Homo sapiens: one gene and its partner. The protein of the gene in region 1 purifies or fractionates together with the protein of each later gene. This does not show direct contact. Each region holds a gene or a part of one and is shown in the gene's direction. Other genes may lie near its edges.

Region 1 (3,836 bases):
ACTGCAGCCTTGACCTCCTGGGCTCAAGTGATCCTCCCACCTCAGCTTGTGAGTAACTGGGACCACAGGAGCATACCACCATGCCTGGCTAATTTTTTTTTTTTTTAACTTTTAGTAGAGATGGGGTCTCACCATGTTGCCCACGCTAGTCTTGAACTTGGCCTCCCAAAATGCTGGGATTACAAGGCCTGTGCCACCATGCCCAGCCCTGGGAATTTTTTCTAAACACATCTGTGAATGCATTTAATTCTGGGATAAATGTTAGCTAATATAGTTACAATTTTGGATTCCCCGTGGGACTTAGCTGACTCTCCATTTCCCTGTTTATTTTGGGGTAGCAGTTAATCTGCCCCTTGGCAAAAGAGATGATGCTAAATTAGTTAATGACTCACTCCCAAGGCTGTATTTCACATTTTGCAGAGTTGTGGGAAGCAGAGGAGGGCTGACAGTTATACTATGAAAGATATTCATTGCATGTGACTTTGTTTTTGGTTCTTGTTACTCTTTGACTGTTTTTCTTTCTTTTCTTTTTTTTTTTTTAAGCAAATTGGCATAACATCCAGAACCTGCTTTTGGAAGCAAAGTTTGGGACTTGGAACACTGGCTTTTCCCAGAACCCTGTGTCCTTAACTTCAGTATATGATTTTATCTGAATGTGCTAATACCATTTTCTCTAAGTTTACTGCTTTCAAAAGAAACTTTTTATGAGGTGCAAGCTAAGTCATTCTCACTGACTAGATATACATATAGTGTATATACTTATATATATCTCCTTATGTGTAAGTGTATCTATTTTAAGGATACATGTGTATGTGTGTGTATATATACATATATATATAAAACCAAGAGAAAAGAGTAAGAAATTAGTTTTATTGAACATATATGCCTGGCACATTATATATGTTTGTTATTTCATTCAACATAAATGACTGTTCTAAGCCGTTTTAAAGTAGTCTTTCACTCTGTAGTGTTCCAGGATTAGGAATGTATTTTTGGCCTGCGGTGGGCATTCCAGGTACTAATACAAATCAGGAATGAGGAATGTTGCCAGGTGTATTTGTATCAGCAAAACCCCCCTATTTTAATTTTTTTTTTTTGAGATGGAGTCTGACTCTGTTGCCCAGGCTGGAGTGCAGTGGCACGATCTCCGCTCACGGCAGTCTCTGCTCACTGCAACCTCTGCCTCCCGGGTTCAATCGATTCTCCTGCCTCAGCCTCCCAAGTAGCTGGGTCTACAGGTGCGTGCCACCATGCCCGGCTAATTTTTTGTATTTTTAGTAGAGACGGGGTTTCACCATATGAGCCAGGATGGTCTCAATCTCCTGACCTCATGATCTGCCTACCTTGGCTTCCCGAAGTGTTGGGATTACAGATGTGAGCCACCATGCCCGGCCTGCAAAACCCTTTTAATGAAGTCCTCTTCGACTCTAATTCTGAAATGGAATTGTGAATATTAATATGTTTTCAATTTCTTCATATACCATGGGTATAATTAAATGCTATTATATGTTGTGCCATGCTAGTATTATATAAAATCAGGGTAAAAGTATTTGATTTGCTGTAAGATTGTAACTTTTTTCTTTTTTTGAGATGGAGTCTTGCCCTGTTACACAGTCTGGAGTGCAGTGGCGTGATCTTGGCTCACTGCAACCTATGCCTCCTGGGTTCGAGATATTCTCCTACCTCAGCTCCCGAGTAGCTGAGATTACAATTACAGGGTCCTGCCACCATGCCTGGCAAATTTTTGTATTTTTAGTAGAGGCGGGGTTTTGCCATGTTGGCCAGGCTGGTCTCAAACCCCTGACCTCAAGTGATCTGCCCACCTTGGCCTCCCAAAATGCTAGGATTACAGGCATGAGCCACCGTGCCTGGCCAGATTATAATAATTTAATACTTCACAAGATGCAATACAGATTAAGATAAAGTTTATATATAAGATTATTGCATTATATCTAAGATGTTGAGATTTGGTTTAAAGTTGGTATTTAATCATAATGCAATAAAAAACACTTATTGAAGGCCTAAAGATTGTGAAAGCTTTAAAATCCCATTTAAATTAGCAGTTACTGGCCGGGTGCAGTGGTGGGTGCCTGTATTCTCAGCTATGGAGGCAAAAGCTGGAGAATTGCATGAACTTGGGAGGCTGCAGTGAGCTGAGATTGCTCCAGCCTGGGCAACAGAGCAAGACTCTGTCTCAAAAAAAATAAATAAATAAATTAGCAGTTATCTTGAGAATTAATTTTATCTGACCCTACAGGATATTCAGTACCTTGATGTTAGGTTTTAGAATATAAGAGGAGATTACTTCATTGGTCTTGAGGTTAGAGCAGTCTTCATGACACCAAGGACAGAGATCTAAAGGGAAAGGCTTTTTTTAATGGGATCATTTTACTTAAGGAAGAGATGCTCATCTAGTTTAGTTTAGTTTAGTTTAGTTTAGTTTAGTTTAGTTTAGTTTAGTTTAGTTTAGTTTAGTTAGTTTAGTTTAGTTTAGTTTTTTGAGATGCAGTCTTTCTCTGTCGCCCAGGCTAGAGTGCAGTGGGGTGATATCAGCTCACTGTAACCTCTGCCTCCTGGGTTCAAGCAATTCTCCTGCCTCAGCCTCCTGAGTAGCTGGGATTATAGGCGCGCACCACCATGCCTGGCTAATTTTTGTATTTTTAGCAGAGACGGGGTTTTGCCATGTTGACCAGGCTGGTCTGGAACTCCTGACCTCAAGCAATCCACCCTCCTCGGCCTCCTAAAGTGCTGGGATTACAGGCTTGAGCTACCACGCTGGGCCAGATGCTCATCTTTAAGTAATGGGCACTTTACTGTAAGGACATGTGTGAAAATAGGAAAACTGGGACTCTTCCACATTTGGGTTTCATGGAACCCAGGAAGAGTTGCATAAGCAGTTCTCTTTGGGAAGAGACAGCCTTTCGGGCAGCTGAACATGGTTTTGGGAACTGGAGGTTCTTCTAGATCCTGATTTTTCTTCTTGCTCCCCACCTCAGCAACAGTTTTCTGATTTCTTGCCCTGTTGTCTCCCATTGGTGTGACTATTATTCTGCCTATTCTTTCTGTCTTTGTTCTGTGGTTCTAGTTTGAACTGCCTCAGGGACGAGCTCTTACTGGTTCAACTAACTCTCACTGCTCTGTTGAGCTAAGCTTTTGCGCCAACTGGACCACTGGCCAGCCTAGAGATTGTTGCCCTTGGCGTCACATACTCACTCCTGGTCTGTCAGCTTTGGATGATATGGTGGGGTCCCTGGGAAGAGCACATTGCCAACTGTGAGAAGGAGCTTCCTCCAGTCCCCTGCCCTGCCCCTATTCTTACCAGGAAAGTCTTCCCCAGAAGGGACTGTGGGGAGTGGTGGTCATTTTGATGTTTGACCTGTCCAGTATGTTGTTTGTTTGTTTGTTTATTTTTGAGACGGAGTCTAGCTCTGTCACCGAGGCTGGAGTGCAGTGGCACAATCTCAGCTCACCGCAACCTCTGCCTCCTGGTTTCAAGTGATTCTCCTGCCTCAGCCACCTGAGTAGCTGGGATTACAGGAGCCCACCACTACGCCCAGCTAATTTTTGTATTTTTAGTAGAGACAGGGTTTCATGTGTTGGCCAGGCTGGTCTCGAACTCCTTACCTTGTGATCTGCCCTCCTCGGCCTCCCAAAGTGCTGGGATTACAAACGTGAGCCATCGTGCCCGGCCTATATTGTTTGTTTATTCAACTACAGAATATAATTTATCGATTTAAACCACCATAAAAATGAAGTCAGTTGACTGGGAAATGATTTGAAATACATGCCTGGCTGCTAACAACAGGGACAAAACACGAACTACAAATGGCATATAA
Region 2 (3,500 bases), on another chromosome or scaffold:
AAGGATGAGCACGTGGTGCAGAGGACAGAAAATACCTGCACACACACAGAAAAGGACACAGCCAGTGTTGAAACCTCTCTCTAGCCACGGTAGCCAGAAGACTTGACTCATTCCCAAGTGAGAGACCTTGTCGTGTATCTAATTTACACGTGCCTAAATTGCTGTTTGATAAAACTGCTCAGAATTTACTCATACTGTAATTTTTATTTAAACTTTGGTTGTTTTCTAAAGCCCCAGTGTGTTCATTTGCTAGGGATCCCATAACAAAATATCACAGGCTGGGCAGCTTAAACGATGGAATTCATTTTCATACGGTTCTGGAGGCTGGAAGTCCAAGGCCAAGACTTGTCCTGAGATTTGTCCTGAGACCTCTTTCCTTAACTTGGGGATAGCTGCCTTCTTGCTGTGTCCCCAGGCGGCCTTTTCTCTGCTGTCCCTTCCTCTTATGAGGACACCAGTCTTATTGGACCAGGGCCCCCTCTTAATGGCCTCATTTTGACATGATTGCCTCTTTAAAGGCCCTGTCTCTAAATGCAGTCACATTTTAAAGTACTGGGGATTAGGACTTCAACATATGAATTTGGAAGTTGGCGGGCAGGGAGTGTCACAATTCAGCTCATAACATCCAGGTCAAAGAAACCTCTTAAAGTGATACAGCCCACATATAACCTGACCTGGGTGTACCCAACTGAGCGTTCATCATTTTGCTATCAAAGCAAAGTCTGTCTGCCCTTGACTGAGCCTTCTAGGCTGGCAAATTCTGCAGCTAAATGTTGCATAATTGGTGCTTGAACAAGAACTAGTCTAAACATTATTGCCTACCCACTAAAGTTTTCGCACACATTAAAAATAGTGTAAAAGGTCCACATTGATAAGGATTAAAAGAACCATTAAAAATGTCCTTTCCATATTGTACTTAGATGAAGGCTTAATTCTTTTGGTTAGCAATTTAAATACTAGTTATATATTTTAAACTTAAAAAGAAAATATTATGGCGTGGCACTGTGTCACGCACCTGTAGTCTCAGCTACTTGGGAGGCTGAGGAAGGAAAATCGCTTGAGTCCAGGCATTCAAGGCTGTAGTGTACTTTGATCATGCGTATGAATAGCCATTGTGCTCCATTCTGGGCAACACAGTGAGACTCGGTCTCTTAAAAAAATTAGGGCAGAGGGAGAAGGTGGTGTCTGAAGAACAGATAGTCACTCTCTAATACGTGTAACAAAATATAGAGGTGTGGGAGAGGGAGCTGGGAACCCAGACCAACTCAAGCCTTAGGTTCAAAGCGAAAGAAGTACATGTTTTAAAGCTCAATTCATGAGAGTCCCACTGACTTTTAGCTCTTCTCTAATTCCCACTTTCCAGTGTCAGCTACTATAGTGTACTGCCTGTTGAGTCACACTAAGGACAGTGCTTCCAGGAGACAATAGGGTTTTTTTCTAAGCCCATTCCACTTCCTGCCTGAAAGGAGACAGGAAGATAAAGCCAGCTTCACAGACTGTAAATTCCAACCTTTGTACCTGAAGTTGGTCCTCTTACCTATCTACAGGAATAATGCAAGATCTTTGCCAAAGCTAAGAGGAGGGTGTTTTATCATGATGCGTTTAGTCCTTTCCTTGACAAATGTCAATGATAGCCAGAGATTAGGTCTCACAAATTCCCCCACGGGACCAGAGTTTAGATCTGGGAGGAGGAACCCAGGACATACACTCTTTCTAGCAAAGCCTGTTCTTGCTCTTTTTAGTGCCTCTGGCTAAAGCATTCTCTTTTTAAATCATTTGAGGTGGCCAAGAAGAGACAGGATCCTGAACAGAAGTGGCAAAAAAACAGACAGGAAGAGGCTTGTATTAGTTTGTTTTCACAGTGCTATAAAGAAATACCAGAGACTGGGTAATTTAGGAAGGAAAGAGGTTTAATTGGCTTACGGTTCCACAGGCTGTACAGGAAGCATGGCTGGGGAGGCCTCGGGAAACTTACAATCATGATGTAAGGTGAAGAGGAAGCAAGCACATAAGCAAGCACATCTTACATGGTCAGAGCAGGAGGAAGAGAGAGAGGGGGAGGTGAACTTTTAAACAACCAGATCTCTCGATAACTCACTATCACGAGAACAGCACCAAAGGGGAAATATGTCCCCATGATTTAATCACCTCCCACCAGGCCCCACCTCCAACACTGAGGATTACAATGTCACATGAGATTTGGGTAGGGACACAGAGCCAAACCATATCAGAGGCAGTCACTCGTTCCACTGTGACAAGATGGAAAAAGGGTAGATGTAGGTATTAGTAAGTGTGATGGTTTGGTAGCCAGAAGGTTTGTGGCTTTTGATTTTGCAAAAGTGAAATCTGTTGAGAGGAAGGGGAGACGTAGTAGATAGATACCATGGTTTGAGGAGAGTGGAAAAGGTTTTTTGTTTTGTTTTGTTTTGTTTTGTTTAATTTCAATAGCTTTTGGGCGAACAGGTGTTTTGTTACATGAATAAGTTCTTTCTTTAATGGTGATTTATCAGATTTTGGTGTACTCATCACCCGAGCAGTGTACATGGTACCCAATGTGTAGTCTTTTATTCCTCATCCCCCTCACACCCTTTCTTCTCTGAGTCCCCAAAGTCTATTGTATCATTCTTATGCCTTTGCATCCTCATAGCTCAGCTCCCACTTATGAATGAGAACATACGATGTTTGGTTTTTCATTCCTGACTTACTTCACTTAGAATAATAGTCTCCAATTCCATCCAAGTTGCTGTGAATGCCATTATTTTGTTCCTTTTTATGGCTGAGTAGTATTCCATAGTCTATATATATACCATCATTTCTTTATCCACTAGTTGATTGATGGGCATTTGTGTTGGCTCCATATTTTTGCAATTGCAAATTGTGCTACTATAAACGTGTGTGCAGGTATCTTTTTCATGTAATGACTTCTTTGCCTCTGGGTAGATACCCAGTAGTGGGATTGCTGGATTAAATGGTATTCTACTTTTAGTTCTTTAAAGAATCTCCACACTGTTTTCCATAGTGGTTGTACTAGTTTACATTCCTGAGAGTGGAAAAGGTTTAAAACACTCATTGCAGAGAAATGGGAAGAGAGCTGACTGGGGAAAGATGGTTCCATGGTTCACTGAAACCCCAGTGAGATGAGTAACTTTGAGTTTATAAGGACAACCCTCTCCCCAGGTGGGGGATTTTCTCCAGTAGTGCTTGATGGTACACGGGTAGCCATGGAGAAGATAGTTTTTTAAATAAGCTTTTTTATTTTGGAATAATTTTAGATTTATAGACAAGTTATAAAGACAGTACAGAGTTCTCAAGACCCCTCATCCGGATCCCCCTGGTAATCTTCTGACATCATCATAGTACATTTGTCAAAACTGTCTCTGTCTTTCATGACCTTTACAGTTTTGGGGAGGACTGGTCAGGTTCCTTGTAGAATGTCCCTCAGTCTGGGATTGTTTGATGTTTCTCCTCACAATTAAACTGGGATTATGGGCTATTAGGAA

What was found. The genes of interacting proteins can lie anywhere in the genome.
Region 2: the proteins of MTHFD2 (region 1) and MSRB2 fractionate together in Homo sapiens (co-fractionation; one large-scale study listed by BioGRID). This does not show direct contact.

The regions. Positions count from the first base shown.
Region 1 is NC_000002.12:74,201,432-74,205,267, forward strand, and holds part of MTHFD2 (bifunctional methylenetetrahydrofolate dehydrogenase/cyclohydrolase, mitochondrial isoform A precursor), read left to right. Parts: exon of another isoform or gene 1-48; intron 49-3,836. UniProt on the Homo sapiens protein: Although its dehydrogenase activity is NAD-specific, it can also utilize NADP at a reduced efficiency.
Region 2 is NC_000010.11:23,098,579-23,102,078, forward strand, and holds part of MSRB2 (methionine-R-sulfoxide reductase B2, mitochondrial precursor), read left to right. Parts: intron 1-3,500. UniProt on the Homo sapiens protein: Methionine-sulfoxide reductase that specifically reduces methionine (R)-sulfoxide back to methionine.